Homo sapiens: one gene and its partner. The protein of the gene in region 1 purifies or fractionates together with the protein of each later gene. This does not show direct contact. Each region holds a gene or a part of one and is shown on either strand. Other genes may lie near its edges.

The links. Proteins that work in one complex are often made in the same cells at the same time.
Region 2: the proteins of FN3KRP (region 1) and LTF purify together in Homo sapiens (affinity purification with mass spectrometry; 3 studies listed by BioGRID and IntAct, with this or other methods). This does not show direct contact.

What each region holds. Positions count from the first base shown.
Region 1 is NC_000017.11:82,711,988-82,720,371, forward strand, and holds the start of FN3KRP (ketosamine-3-kinase), read left to right. Parts: upstream 1-4,718; 5' UTR 4,719-4,768; coding exon 4,769-4,909; intron 4,910-6,456; exon of another isoform or gene 6,457-6,584; intron 6,585-6,918; coding exon 6,919-7,070; intron 7,071-8,284; coding exon 8,285-8,376; intron 8,377-8,384.
Region 2 is NC_000003.12:46,440,546-46,448,390, reverse strand, and holds part of LTF (lactotransferrin isoform 1 preproprotein), read left to right. Parts: intron 1-992; coding exon 993-1,083; intron 1,084-1,897; coding exon 1,898-1,951; intron 1,952-2,954; coding exon 2,955-3,110; intron 3,111-4,808; coding exon 4,809-4,950; intron 4,951-6,907; coding exon 6,908-6,975; intron 6,976-7,845. UniProt on the Homo sapiens protein: Transferrins are iron binding transport proteins which can bind two Fe(3+) ions in association with the binding of an anion, usually bicarbonate. Lactoferricin binds to the bacterial surface and is crucial for the bactericidal functions.

The DNA.
Region 1 (8,384 bases):
GCGCTGGCTCCCTGCGAGGCTGCAGCTGGACCAGGTGCACCATGAGCAGGTTCCATGGCTGGCACGGGGGAATGCAGGGGCACCCAGAAACTTGGAGACGCCGGGAGCCGCAGAGCCTCAGAGACGGTGTCGCAGGCCTGGCTGGGGAGGTCTTAGGTCTGGGCTTCCCGAAGGGACACAGCTCTTCTCTCCCTCTCTCTTCTCTCCTTCTTGTCACTCACAACATTGTTAGCAAGGGACGTGTTTCAGCCCTGTTTGTGTGACAGCTCTTTTAGCCCTGCCATTTGGCAGGTCACGAGTTCTTGTCTTGCATCCAGGAAGAATGAGGTATGGGCACAAGTAGAGGGTGAGCAAGGCCAGCAGGAAATTTACTGAGCAACAGAACAGCTCAGAGGAGACTCGCAGTGGGTAGCTCCTCCCCGCAGGCAGGGCATCCCAGCTAGCGTTCAGCTCTCAGAAGAGAGGAGACCCTGGAATGGGTAGTTCCTCTCTGCAGCTGGCAGTCCCAATGTCTGCTCAGCTCTCAGCAGAGAGGGGAGCCTGGAGCAGGTAGCTCCTCTCTGCAGCTGGTAGTTCCAGCATCTGCTCAGCTCTCAGCGGAGGGGGGACCCTGGAGTGGGTAGCTCCTCTCTGCAGGCAGGTCATCCTGTCATCTCCTCAAATCTGGCTGAGTCTGGGGTTTTCATAGGCTTCAGAGGGGAGGAAGTGCATGCTGACTGGTTCATGGGCGGCCATGGGTGGGCCTGGACAAAGCACTATAAGTTCCCATTCTGGTCCCTCAGCCCAGCTCCCAGGCTTCAGGCCATCCCTGGCTTCAGGGTGGGCCTTCACTGTGGACCTGCCCCTTTCCACCCAAGAGCCTCTCTGCCTCCTGCCGTCATCTATGGCGTCCAGGCTGATTGTGCCAAGGAGCTGCCCTCAGCCCCTTCTCAGCCATGGTTGGGAAGCTGCACCTGCACCCAGGAGGATGGGGTTCCTGCCCACTCCCACCCCCAAGAGCAAAGGAATGCGCAGATCTGGAACCATGGCTGGGCAGCTGCCACTGAACCTGGGGAGCACAAGGCTCTCTCCCTGCTGGCTTGGAAGGTGGGTGGCTTCTGCCTGTTCCTGGCTCCCACCAGCTCCGTGGAGCACGCAGCCCCGGCGCCACCTCCCCACTGCTGCTGGTGTCATGACAGTGACTGCTCCAGACAGGCCGCCGCCATCTGTGCGTGTCACATATCTATGCAGAGACTGCTGCAGACAGGCCGCCGCCATCTGTGGGCGTCGCATGCCCATGCAGAGACTGCTCCAGACAGGCCGCCGCCATCTGTGGGCGTCGCATGCCCACGCAGTGACTGCTCCAGACGGGCCGCCGCCATCTGTGGGCGTCGCGTGCCCACGCAGAGACTGCTCCGGACTGGCCGCCGCCATCTGTGGGCGTCGCATGTCTATACAGAGACTGCTCCAGACTGGCCGCCGCCATCTGTGGGTGTCGCATGTCTATGTAGTGACTGCTCCAGACAGGCTGCTGCCGCCATCTGTGGGTGCCACATGCAGAGTGACCCAGGGGCTTGCCACAAGGGGGACAGTCAGGCAGGGACTCTGTGTGCACATGCATCCAAGCACAAGGCAGGTGTGGGCAGAGAAGCGAGTTGGAGCCATCCTCAGGAGGAGTGAATTACTGGGGATGTTGACCTTGGGACACCAGGAAGAGAATCTCATTTGCAGAGGAGGAAAACGCTGCTGGAACGGAAAGTCTGAGAAAGACAGCAAGAGCAGGACAGAGCAAAGCAGGACGCGGGAGTGAAGGCCTGCAGTGTGGGTGCGTGTGCAAGACCCAGAAACGCGCAGATGTGTGGGGCCAGCAACACCACGGCCACATCCTCAGCCACAGAACAACACACAACATCTCAAGGATGAACTCATCAACGCACCAACGGTTAGTCTCTTATCTAATAAATAAAGCATATCCCGGTTACAAATAATCAACACAGATGTTTCAATGATCTTGAGTAGAAAGTTGAGAGCTTGTCATTTGAGTCAGGAAATGGGACTCCGCGGAAATGATGGCCTTGAGAGAGCCCTCATGTGTTCTTTGTGCAGTCGGCAATTCCATGTAGACAGGAAAAATGGACTGAAAACTTAAACTGATATGATGAAGATAATATCATTCAATTGAAAATGAAAATGGAAAAAGTCATTTATAAACCATTTGAATGGACAAAAAAGAAAATTGGTTAGGAATTAAATTAGCTAGATGAAAGTCACTTTTTTTCTTTTTTGCTTTTTTTTTTGAGATGGAGTCTCACACTCTATTACCCAGGCTGGAGTGCAGTGGTGCGATCTCGGCTCACTGCAACCTCCGCCTCCCGGGTTCAAGCGATTCTCCCGCCTCAGCCTCCTGAGTAGCTGGGATTACAGGCGTGAGCCACAGTGCCTGGCCAAAAGTCACTCTTTTTTTTTTTTTTTTTTTTTTTGAGACGGAGTCTCGCTCTGTTGCCAGGCTGGAGTGCAATGGAGAGCAGTGGTGCGATCTCGGCTCACTGCAAGCTCCGCCTCCCGGGTTCACGCCATTCTCCTGCCTCAGCCTCCCGAGTAGCTGGGACTACAGGCGCCTGCCACCACGTGTGGCTAATTTTTTTGTGTGTGTGTGTTTTTAGTAGAAACAGGATTTCACCGAATAAGCCAAGACGGTCTCGATCTCCTGACCTTGTGACCCACCTGCCTCGGCCTCCCAAAGTGCTGGGATTTCAGGCGTGAGCCACCGCACCCGGCCCAAAAGTCACTCCTAAAAATGCTTTCTCGGCCGGGCACAGTGGCTCATGCCTGTAATCCCAGCACTTTGGGAGGCCAAGGCAGGCAGATCGCCTGAGGTCAGGAGTTTGAGACCAGCCTGGCCAACATGGCAAAACCCCATCTCCACAAAAACACAAAAATTAGCCAGTCATGGTGGTGTGCGCCTGTAATCCCAGCTACTCAGGAGGCTAAGGCAGGAGAATCGCTTGAACCTGGGAGGCAGAGGTTGCAGTGAGCTGAGATTGCACCACTGCACTCCCGCCTGGGCGACAGAGCAAGACTCCATCTCAAAAAAAAAAAAAAAAAAGTTTCTCAACAAAAACTTAACGGTGGCATAGTTCTGATGAAAATCTTCATGTTCATGGCATGGAGTTAAAATGTCCAAACGGTCAAGGCCACAGATTAAAACAGGGACATCCGCAGGCCCTGGCCCGAGGGGAGGAGCATACAGGGAGTGGTTCACCCACTCCACCGCCTTTGGAGCACCTTTTAATTCTCTCACTCTTCTCTAATGTGTTCCTTGATTTATCTATTACCATCTGCGGATTTTCATCTGTTCTTTTTTGCCTTTTTTTTTTTTGAGACGGAGTTTTGCTCTTGTCACCCAGGCTGGAGTGCAATGGCGGGATCTCAGCTCACTGCAACCTCCGCCTCCCGGGTTCAAGCGATTCTCCTGCCTCAGCCTCCCGAGTATCTGGGATTACAAGCGCCCGCCACCACGCCCCGCTAATCTTTTTTGCTTTTTAAAATTATGAAATGCGGTATACACACAGAAAAGTGCGTGAACACACACATATGTACCATTTAATAGATAGTTATAAAATGATCCGCCCGCCTCAGCCTCCCAAAGTGCTGGGATTACAGGCGTGAGCCACCGCTTCCGGCCTCAGGAGAGGATTCGTGTTTGCTTCTCCCAACGTCCAGGGAAGCGACATTTCCTATTTGCTTTAGACTAAAATCTATACTTGAATTTTTTGTTTACTGTAGGTAATATTAACTAGGGTTGCAGTCCGTGGAGGGCCGACTATGCGAACGGTTTCTATGAACCATCCTTTGCTGAAGGCTGAAACCTCTTCGTCCCCTGGGAGAGTTCCTATTCAGGCCTTCTTGTAGTTAGTTCATCCTTGTGTTGACAGCTGTATTAGGGTTCTCCAGAGAGACGGATCCAGTAGGATATAGACGTAGATCCAGGACAGGAGATGGACTGGGGGAGCTGGCGTTTGCAATTACGGAGGCCGAGAAGTCTGTGAGCCGGAGACCCCGGGACTCGGGTAGCCGGGCTCAGCCCAGGTCGGAAGGCCTCAGAAGCGGGGAAGCGGATGGTGTGGCCCTCAGCACGACCCACCCCAAATCATGCCTTGCCAGGTTTCTGGGAATTCCTGGTCCAGCCCAGCTGGCACCTGACACTGGCCGTAACGGCAGGGCCACTGTTAGCTGTTAGCCTCAGGGCCCCAGGTTTAGGGGCGGTGTCTCCGTTGCACGTGCACCCCGAGCGCGCCCGCCACTCCCCACATCAGGAGCTCTGTTCCTCGGGTTCAGCAAACGCCCGGGCGAAAGCAATCTTAACATTCTGGGCTCCCGGCACCCAGACCTTGGGCTGATGCCCCTTGCTAGTGGGTCAGCTCTTTAGAAAATATATTCTAACTATTTCCATCAGCATTTCCACTTATTTTGTGCAGGAGAGTTGAACCCAAACCGTCTGGGTCGGGGTCGGTCAGGCCCCGCCCCCTGACGTCATCTCACCCCCACCCAATCCCCCGCGCCTACCTGCCTCCCGGCCCCTCCCCTTCCCGCCCCTCAATCCCAGCGCTCATCTCTGCGGCCACGCCCGCCCCTTCCCGCCACCCAATCCTAGCGCTTGTCTCTGCGGCCGGGCCCCGCCCCCACCCGCCCCCCGCCCAATCCTCGCGCGGACTCATGTTTGCCCGCTCGGCCGCCGTCTCTCGAGTCTCCGCCAGATCCGGGGCGGGTCCGCGGCCGCGGCGGGAACATGGAGGAGCTCCTGAGGCGCGAGCTGGGCTGCAGCTCTGTCAGGGCCACGGGCCACTCGGGGGGCGGGTGCATCAGCCAGGGCCGGAGCTACGACACGGATCAAGGACGAGTGTTCGTGAAAGTGAACCCCAAGGCGGAGGTCAGGCAGCGGGTCGGGCGGGCCGGGGGACCGGTTTCTTTCCGGAGAGGGTCGCGGGCCTCGGCGCGGGGCGCGGCCTGGGCTTCTCCCGCCGGAGGCCGTGGGTGGCTCTCCCGGGACTGCCGCCGCCGCCCCTTGCGGGGAACCCTTTGCGCGGGGCGAGCGGTGAACGGGGGCGGCGGAAGCGTCCGGGGCGTCCGGAGGAGTTTGCACCTGCGGGGAACTGTCCGGAGCAGGAACCGCGGCCGCCCCACACCTCCTGTTCTCCGTGAACTTTCTCTCGGGGGCGCTACGTGAAATGGGGCGGGACTGGCTGCTGCAGTCTTGCTCCCGGGGTTCCTGCCCTGCGGTGCTGGTTAAGTGGGGTCGTTCTAGCCGGGGAAGCTGCTTAAGTCCTCAGCTTAAGTGACTCTGGAGGTGTCCATCCCCCGTGAGCCTCGGTCAGTACGTTGTGAAACGGGGCGAAGGTGCTGCCCCCAGGCCAGCTGCTGCGCCTCACCACACCCTGGCATGCTCTGTCCTTCTGTTAGACTCATTCTCGGGCCGGGCGCGGTGGCTCACGCCTGTAATCCCAGCACTTTGGGAGACAGAGGTGGGTGGAGCGCGAAGTCAGGAGTTCGAGACCAGCCTGGCCAACAAGGTGAAACCCCCGTCTCTATTAAAAATACAAAAATTAGCTGGGCGTGGTGGCGGGCGCCTGTAATCCCAGCTACTCGGGAGGCTGAGGCAGAAGAATCGCTTGAACCCAGGAGGCAGAGGTTGCAGTGAGTCGAGATCGCGCCACTGCACTCCAGCCTGCTGGGTGACTGAATGAGACTCCGTCTCAAAAAAAAAAGAGTGTTCCTAGCAGCGGTGACATGGCAGCTGTGGTGGGGCTCTGAGGCTGAGGAGGTGGGGACTCTGAAGAACTGAAAGAAGGATGAAGACAGCTGGAAGTCAGGAGCACGAGGAGAGTGTGTGTGTCTATGTGTATGTTGTGTGTGTGTACGTTGTATGTGTGTATGTTTGTAATGTTTGTATGTTGTGTGTATGTATTGTGTGTCTGTGTGTGTGTAAGGGTGGAGCCCCAGGTGAGGATGGGAGAGTGGGCAGGGCAGTGGTGTGTGTCTCAGGAGAAAAAGAAAGGCCGCTGGCCCTGACCTGTTCTGCGGGGATCACTGCTGTGTATGTTGTGTGTGTGTGTCTGTGTGTTGTGTGTGTATGGTGTGTCTGTAAGTCGTATGTTGTGTGTGTTGTGTGTCTGTATGTGTTGTGTGTGTGTTGTGTGTCTGTATATGTTGTGTGTGTGTGTTATGTGTCTGTGTGTGTAAGGGTGGAGCCCCAGATGAGGATGGGAGAGCAGGCAGGGCAGTGGTGTGTGTAGCAGGAGGAAAGGAAAGGCCGCTGGCTCTGACTTCTACTCTAGGGATCACTGCTGTGTGGTGAGCCAGGGGGACCCAAGGGAGGAGTTGCTGTGGTCCCGGGGAGTTGGATGGAAACGGCATCTCAAGATGAGGTGGTTTCCAGTGCTGGGCAGGAGGTGGCATGGAACTTGGTGGTCTCTTCAGGTGAAAAGTGACCCCAGGTCACTGGCATAGGCAGCCAGGGTGCCGCCTGCACCTGAGAGGTCGGGTGAGTCTGTGTCCTGTAGGTGGAACAGGACTGCAGTTGAGGTGTCGTCTGAGGACACTGACAGGTAACCCATGTTCACAGTCCCACTGTTGCCGGATCTTAGTGGAATATTAGTGCCTTCGATTTTCCTCTCTCCAGAGAACCTCCCAATTCAACCACAGCACACAAGTGTAGTCCAACACTGGAAAGCTCAAGCCCTCTTCTTCCAGTACAGCCTCTGAACCTGTAGCCTACCCTGTTGGCAAGTGTGTTTGAAAACACTGTCCATGTGTATGGAATCCTCAGTCAGGATAGTCTTGGTTTGAAGTTGTAATGCTAGAGGAAAACATATCTACAGAACCTTCCGGAAGTAACCTTGCCTCCCTGTATTTCCACTTCCTCTCGTATTTTTCTGACAGGCCAGAAGAATGTTTGAAGGTGAGATGGCAAGTTTAACTGCCATCCTGAAAACAAACACGGTGAAAGTGCCCAAGCCCATCAAGGTTCTGGATGCCCCAGGCGGCGGGAGCGTGCTGGTGATGGAGCACATGGACATGAGGCATCTGAGCAGGTGCATCTTCACACCACCCCCCACCTGGCTTTATTACCTGAGCAGGTGTGTCTTCACACCTTGTTTTATTATGTGTGTCTTCACACCACCCACTGGCTGGCTTTATTATCTGAGCAGGTGTGTGTTCACACCACCCCCCAGCTGGCTTCATGCCCCGCCCCGGCTGGCTTTGTTATCTGAGCATCTGAGCAGGTGCACCCTCACACCAGCCCCCAGCTGGCTTTCTTTTCCACCAAGTGGTTCTCTGATGACTGAAGCTTGTACTGGGGACATCATTTTGAGGAGTGTAATGCAAAGAACCCGTGACTCCACATACCATGAGTTCTGCAGAATGAACGGCAGGCACTCTCTGCAACCAAGGGCAGAAGCAAGAGGAATCTCCCAAAGTGAGATGCTGACCAAAGGCCTCGCTGCACGCCGGCCGCGGTGGCTCACGCCTGGAATCCCAACACTTCGGGAGGCTGAGGCGGGTGAATCACTTGAGGTCAGGAGTTTGAGACCAGCCTGGCCAATATGGTGAAACCCCATGTCTACCAAAAATCCAAAAATTAGCTGGATGTGGTGGCAGGCGCCTCTAATTCCAGCTACTCGGGAGGCTGAGGCAGGAGAATCACTTGAACGCAGGAGGCAGAGGTTGCAGTGAGCTGAGATCGCACCACTGCACTCTAGCCTGGGCAGTAGAGCGAGACTCAGTCTCAAAAAAGAGGAAAAAAAAACCACTGCAAACTTGGATGAGGCTGGGAAAGATCGTCAAATAATCAACACCTTTATCCCCCTCTTGCTTCACCAGAACCTACTTTCTGTCCTCAAAATGTCCGACCTACTAGCCGGCTGTGGTGGCTCACGCCTCTAATCCCGGCACTTTGGGAGGCCAAGGTGGGCGGATGACTTGAGGTCAGAGTTTGAGACCAGTCTGGCCAACACAGTGAAACCCTGCCTCTACTAAAAATACAAAAAAATTAGCCAGGCATGGTGGCGGGCACCAGTAATCCCAGCTACTCGGGAGGCTGAGGCAGGAGAATCGCTTGAACCTGGGAGGCGGAGCTTGCAGTGAGCCGAGATCGTGCCACTGCCCTCCAGCCTGGGTGACAGAGCGAGACTCCATCTCAAAAAAATAAAAAAGTTTGACCCTCTTTATGTGCCCTGAGACTGAGCAGTGGGTGTGTTGCCATTCTGTGTGTCATCTGTTTAGTTGCTGTCGTTTGATTTGACAGTCATGCTGCAAAGCTTGGAGCCCAGCTGGCCGATTTACACCTTGATAACAAGAAGCTTGGAGAGATGCGCCTGAAGGAGGCGGGCACAGTGGGTATGGCA
Region 2 (7,845 bases), on another chromosome or scaffold:
AAGCATTAATTTTTTTTTTTTTAAGAGACAGATTCTTGATCTGTCACCCAGGCTGGAGTGCAGTGGTGCGACCACATCTCACTGCAGCCTGGAACTCTTGGGCTCAAGTGATCCTCCCATCTCAGCTTCCCAAGTAGCTGGGGCTACAGGCATACGCCACCACACCTGCATAATTATTATTATTATTATTGTAGCGACAGGGTCTCGCTTTGTTGCCCAGGCTCGTCTCGAACTCCTGGGCTCAAGCAATCTTCCTGCTTCGGCCTCCCAAAGTGCTGGGATTACGGGTGTGAGCCACAGCACTCGGACGAAAACATTTTTTAAACATGCTTCCAGGATATCTTTTATGTGAATATGGCTCAGTTTAGTCATGCCCCCATTCCTCTTTGTCCCTTACTTTGCTATTATCAATAACCCTGTGGTGAGCATTCTTGAGTAGAAATCTTTGTCCACTTCTCTATTTTTAATATAGTTGTAAAAATATTACTGGGTCAAAGAGGAAGTTTCATACTACTGATGAGTCCATGATCCTGTGTTGTAGCCTGGACTTGTTCATTCTGGTGGTGGGCCAATATGACGACTTCAGCTTATGTGTTGGACAACTTCTGTGTAGCGCTTGGAGTGGAGTGCTAATGAGTTCAGATTAGATGAGGCCAGCTGTTCCCATCTGTGTCCTCAGTCAGTGAGACTGCTCCAGGAAGGTGTCCCCAAAGTGCCAGGGACACAGAAAAGGTTTTGCTCAGAGGACAGAGGATTAGTGCAACCTGTGCCTGGTCTTTCCAGTTGAATTGACAGCCCAGAAAGTAGGCAGGGCTGGGAGAGAATTAGTGGTGCACACGGTGTTTCCTCTGGCTGCTCAGTTTGAATAGTCCATCTCTTTCTGCTGTTTCACTGGTCACCTGACAGAAAACCATTCTCTCAGAGAGCTATATAGACAGGCAGGACGGGATGCAGCCTCACTGTGGTGCTGGAGATCTGCTCTGTCTTTGCAGAAAGGAGAAGCTGATGCCATGAGTTTGGATGGAGGATATGTGTACACTGCAGGCAAATGTGGTTTGGTGCCTGTCCTGGCAGAGAACTACAGTAAGTGGAGTTAGCATCCTCTGGTATATTCCCTCTGGGTCATGGGAGTGGGGCTATGAGTAATCCCATTCGGTGAATGCAGGTGAAACATTATGATGAACAGATACATTCAAAAGGGAGAATCAGGGAAAGAAGAAATGAAAGGGGCCGTGTTACCCACAAAGCCTATTGTGTTGAGAATTAACAAGGGACAGGTTGGTTTTATCTTCTTAATTTTCCAGAAGATCTCAGTGAATTATAACATACAAACAGAAAAGTGCACATAAATGTACAACTCATGGCACTTCACACACTGTACAGTCCATGCTCTCGGGCCCAGAACAAACACTGCAAGTTTCAGAAGCCCCTTATGTCCTCCTGTCCCCCGCCCCCTTACTCCTGCAAGGGAAGCCTCTCTCCTGGCTTCTAAGGTCGCAGATCTAAGTTTGCCTATGTTTTAAACTTCATGTTAAAGGAATTACACAGCATGTGTTTTTTTATGTCTGGTTTCTCTTGCTCATCGTTATGCTTTTCATCCACCTAAGTGTGTAGTTGTAGACTGTTCAGTCTCGTCGCTGTGTGAGTCTACTGTGATTATTCATCATTTGAGTGTGGATGGGCATTTGAGTAGTTTCCAGTTGGTGGCTGTGGTGAATAATGCAGCTGTGAATCTCTGTGCCATGTCTTTTGTTGAACATATAGACGCATTTCTCCTGCATGGAACTGCTGGGACGGTCTCTTTGGATTTGATTCTGCATCATTGAGATTTAAGAGTTTGTGGCTTCTCACTACATCTGAATGGATAATGATGTCTGGCTTGTCTTTATTCTTTCAGAATCCCAACAAAGCAGTGACCCTGATCCTAACTGTGTGGATAGACCTGTGGAAGGTGAGTTGGCATTAGCCACTTTCAGGGTCAAGGATAAGTTCTTGTTGCTGGAAGAGGAAGTGGCAGGAACTGTAAAAAAAACAGAAAGAATTGCAGCCCTAGAAGCTATAGGGCTTCTAGGAGCAATAATTTTAAGGGTGCAAATAATTCACAGAGGAATAGTTCTAATTAATGTTTATATTGACCTTCACACTTGGCAAAGAACATCCATATAGTCCCTCATTTTGTCATGGTCATGGAATGGGGGGTGCTACTTCCCCACCTCATGGGGATGAGGAAACAGTGGCACCGAGAGTCCCCAAGTGCCCAGGATCTCACTCACAGCCATAGGTAATACTGTGGTAGATCCTGGTCTTGACCCCGGGTCCTCGTGACCTGGGACTCGTGTCCCAGTGCTCTGTGCACCACTCCTCCTGCCCACCAGAGCTGGTGCTTGCTCAGTTTCAGAAAAGACTTGCCCTTGGTGGGTGTCTGTCAGATGCATTCTCTCAGGAGGACAACGGCAACCATGTTGAGTTCAACCAGTGCAGGGTGGGTTCAGACTCAGCTCAGGGCAGTCCCTGGGGACATGTGCCCCTGTACCCACACAGCCGTTAGCTGGCTGGATGTTGGTGCTCTTGCCTGATGCACACTGTGGTTGGTGATTTATGCACTGTTGGGGTCTCTCTTGTTGTTTATAGTGTTTGTTGCTGTAGAAGCTTACACTGAGAGATGCATTGCTGGTTTGTAACTCAGGGACATTGTGTGGCTGGTTGAAGACAGTCCCCTGTAATCACTAAAATAATCAGCTTTTCTTACTGTTTTATTTCATCAATCTCACCTTAACATAAGGCAGCAGCTTATGCTTTCTCGGTCTACCTAAAAAGGCCAGTTCTTTGAGGGAATCATTGCCTGGTGTTGCTTCTTGGCCTGTTTTGGCCTGGGCTGTAGACAGCTCCACTGGAATCCATGTGCCAGGCCTCCTGGAGGTTAAGACTTGTTTTTCTGTCATCTGTTATGCCAGGATATCTTGCTGTGGCGGTGGTTAGGAGATCAGACACTAGCCTTACCTGGAACTCTGTGAAAGGCAAGAAGTCCTGCCACACCGCCGTGGACAGGACTGCAGGCTGGAATATCCCCATGGGCCTGCTCTTCAACCAGACGGGCTCCTGCAAATTTGGTAAGGAGTTCCAAAGGTGCGGTGGGTGGGCCACCCTGGAGGGTAGGCATATTGTGCTGTGGAACCTTAGGGAAGGGAGGGGAGGGGATTTGCAGGCTGATAGTGGCCTGCAGGCCTCTTCCAGCATAAGGAAATTCTCCCTGTGGCTGCCCCCTGGAGGCGTGGGTGCACTGGGGGTTTCCCTGCACAGCACTTCCCATGCCCCATTCACCCCACCCCAAGATTAAAGATTGGAATATCTGCCTATTTCGCTGCACCCTAAGAATAAATGCAAGTTCCAAGATGTGCAAATGCTTTTTACCTCTTGGAGCTCCAGACCTAAATTCCTCTTAAACTCTGGCTTCCCAGCTTGGGGAAAGATGTCTGCCTGCCTCATGAAAGGTGACTCCTGTTACTAAGCAAAACTGACGCTTACTCTACACTGCAACGGAGCCTGAATAAGACCTCAAGAGCCTGGCTCCACCTGCTTCTGCAGTTTTCTCTCCCCACCACACCCCACACTCATCCTAGTCAGCATCAGCCACACCCTGCCTGCTGTGGGCCCCGTGGCATGGTGTGTAGCACATCCTCAATGTGACTCCCTTCTTGTATGGGCGTCTCCTAGGGCAGGGGCTCCACTGCATGGGTTTTTGATCCTGGCCGGGGCAGGCAGCTTTCACGTGGCTCTGCTCCTCACCAGCTCCATGGCAGCCTCTGAGCTGTAGGGAAACTGCCAGGATGGAATGGGAACTCCCAGCTTTTCCTGAGGTTGACACATAGTGTGGCTCTTCCAGCAGCAGTGGGAGTCTGATAATGGGTGACGTTTGCTCAGTGGGGCAGAGCTTTCTTGTCACCTTTGTTTATTCTTTCTTGGGTTAAATCACACAATGAACGAATTCAGATCAGGTTCAGCTGCAAGGAACAGAAAACTCCTGAAATAGTAGAGGCTTAAACAAGACAGAAGTTAATTTCTGTGTCATGTAGTCCAGAGGTGGTTTGCCTAGGGCTGGTATGAAGACAATATGGGGTCTGGAACCTGGGCTTTAATCATTTGGCTACTCTGCCATTTGTGTGGCTTTCATGCTCAAGGTCACCTCATGGCCCACATTGCATCTCTAAGTCCAGTCCCTGCTTCTGCATTCTATGTGCAGGATGAAGAAAGAGAAGGAGAAGAAAGGGCAAAAGGCATGTACCAATTGTCTTTCAAGGATGTTTCTGAGAAGCTGGCGCCCAACACTCCTGCTGATATTTCACTGGCCTATAGCTACCCATATGGCCATATGAGCCCCAGGGAGTCTGATAAGTCTAGTCTTTATACCAAAGGGCCAAGCACCCAGATACAAAGCAGGGTTTCCATTACTGATAAAAACAAAATCAGATCCTGGACTAGGCAACTCACAGGCTCTGCTGCACACAGCCATCACGGTCATGAGCTGAGTCCCCAGCTCAAGGCTGTGATGACGGGACCCTCCAGGCAGCCACAGCTCTCATCCCCAGCCTTAGTTGGGTGTCCATCTGTGCCTACAGTCTGAATGAAGCTTTTCTGGTGGGTCCTATGTTGGTGACAACATGTTGCTTTGTGATGGTGAGTGTGTTCTATCTAGATTGCTGTCCTGGGAAGTCTAATGAACTGAAACCACCCTGCATCGGCTGTTAGGTAAAGGTTGCTTGTGTGGACTCAGGTTTGAAGAGCTGACTCCCCGTGTTCCTTCTCTCCAGATGAATATTTCAGTCAAAGCTGTGCCCCTGGGTCTGACCCGAGATCTAATCTCTGTGCTCTGTGTATTGGCGACGAGCAGGGTGAGAATAAGTGCGTGCCCAACAGCAACGAGAGATACTACGGCTACACTGGGGCTTTCCGGTGAGTCTGTGACTGAGCTCCATCAGGATGGGGACTTACCTCATCCCTCAGCATGTCAGCATTGCAGTTCTAAGGAGCCAGATGTGACCTGTCACAGCAGAGTGGGGGTCATCCTGTGGGTCAGCTCATGGGTGGCCCCAGTGAGGGCTGTCCCCACCACACCCACCGCCCCAGAGAGTGGAGGCTGGCACCAGGGCTGTCTGACCTCAGCTCCGCAGTGCTTCTCCCTGTGGCTTTGAGCCAAGATCAACAGCAGTAGGCCTCAATAGCCTCGTCCTGAAAATCAAATGGGTAGAGTGTGGTATCCTAAGTGCTTCCTACAATTCCATTTATGGGGAAGAATTCTCTTTCCCATCGCCGCCCCTTTTCTTCTCACCTAGGTCATGACTATGGCTTAGGTTTCCCTTTTTCTCTGACTTTGGCCTTAGAAATGGCAAAGAGATGGCAGAATTGCAGTGTTATTCTCCAGTAACGAAGTGAAAAATAAGCCAAAAAACAAGTTTTCAGAATTCATAAGTTATAACCACTTAGTGACTTGTAACCACACCCCACGTTTTACAGCACCATTCATCCGGGTGTTGCTTCTCAGGGGCACTATTTACCAGTGTGAAGGGTGCAGAGAGGATCTTCCCCTGTTCCTTTTCCTCCATTTGCCAAGAGTACATTTCACGACCAGATGGCGTCATGTGTCTGAGGGTGTCTGAACTTTTTAATATAAATTCAACAGCCTTGTTCCAGTAATGGAATGACAGAAAAGTAGCTTTTGCTATATAAGTGGCTCATAAAAAAAGACCCAAAACAAAAAAAAATGTTTTGTGAATGTATAAAAATATCTTTAAGGGACTAAGGATTTGCAAATGGAAATGTGATTCTACTCAGAAATGCTGAACACATGTCTCATAAGAGCCCGAAAGAAGCATGTGCTCCTCTTTTTTTTTTTTTCAGACCTGCAGCAAGGTATTAGTTCACTGGAAACACCCACATTTTAATATTCCTAATTATACTGGAAGAAAATCCCTTGTCTTTTGTTTAAATTATATCTAGAATCTAGATTGGGGAAATTTATAGCAAAATCATTAAAAGCTGAAACCAGTGTCATACCCCTTTATTTCTATCATCCTTATAATGCTGGTTCTTAATTTTTAACTTTCTGCTGACTCTGTAGTATAGAAGAAGATCTAGCCTCTCACACTGCCCCCAGCACCTTTTCCACCACACAACCACAGACTTCAACTCTCTTCAGCACCCAACACGCTAATGTCATATTCAGTACTTATGACTGTGTAAGCGTTATTCTCATATTATATTTCCCTTATTGTACAAACTTTTTGTTTACTCTGGAGTTCATAAATGTCTTTTCTTATTTGCTTAATTTTCTGCACTTAAAAAAACACATCACTATCTCATCCCCAAACTGTCTGCCAGTAATGTAAATCTCCTAACAACATGCATACACACACACACACACACACACACACACACACACACACACACACACACACACACTCTCTCTCTCTCTCTCTCTCTCTCTCTCTCTCTCTGGGTGCTATCACAGTTTCATCATTTACTTGGAAGTGCTGCTCCAGAAGGCATCCATCTTCCTGCTGCAGTTTGGACTGGTTGCTGTGTAGGCCGCCTGCACATCTGTGGTCCTGGGGGTCCTGTTGACCATTATTTTGGTGCTTTCCTTTGTCTTACTTCATGTTAGATTGCCTGTTTCCTGGGTCGCATATCTTTAGATTTCTTGGTTTTGTAATGTCTTTTATATAGGGTTTTAAAAGGAGGGCAGGTACACCTGTGTTCAATCTGCCGCTGTAAACAGTAAATTCCTAGAAATAGTTGTCTTTTAGATGTTTACTTCCATATTTCAGTTTTTGGAATGCATATTACAAATATTTATGAAAGCCCCACTAGTTTCTCTTCTGTAATTATGTGTATATTTTCTGGAACATTTTAGGTGCCTGGCTGAGAATGCTGGAGACGTTGCATTTGTGAAAGATGTCACTGTCTTGCAGAACACTGATGGTAGGTGAAGGTGTTTCCTTTTCTCCTTCAAAGCAGAGTCTTTGGCATCACAACACATCTTAGTGTTCAGATTTGCCTTTGGGAAGGTTTTATAACATTTTCCATATTTGTGATTAAAAGAACTCCAAAATTCTTTATCTCAATAGACAACATGATAACATCTGTAGGTGTCATATGGATTTTGAAACGAAATTCATACACACACACTCTCTCTCTTTCTCTCACACACACACACACACTCACTCTCACACACACAGATACTAGCCATGCTCAGTAGCAAATGTCTCCCTGGCTTCCTCTAGTCAACCACAGAAACACACTGTCTGCCCACATGAGATCATGCATGCCTATTGGAAACTGTGGATGATGCTACAAACTGGGTGAACATATGCAAATGAAGCCTCCCTTTATGAAAAAGGAAGTAGAGGCCTTCATTCATCCCCATGTGAGCCTTGGTCTGGAGACTCCTTGGGAGTTAGTGGGAACAAAATTACAGGTGGTTGCAGATGATGGAAGATAATCTTCCAGCCAATGTTTGAACAATCACTCTCTCTCCTGGTCCTCAGCCATTTGCTACCTTCCAATCTGCATCTGTCTCCTTAGCCCCACTTCAGCATTCCAACCCCCAAGTCTCAGCAGGTGACTTGCTATTCTGTTTCCTGAGAAAGAACTGTCTCCACTTTCGGCCTCCCTCCTTCAGTAATCACTGCAGTCTCAGCCACTTCTCCCTTCTGCTTCTGCTCCTTCTAGTGTCTCTTGGGACAGAGATTAAAACAAGACATGTAAATTTGAAATTATTTCAATATCAAATAGAGGAATCCAAGAGAATGAATAAAGTGCTTTCTTAAAGGGAGAGAGCAGAGAGACAAA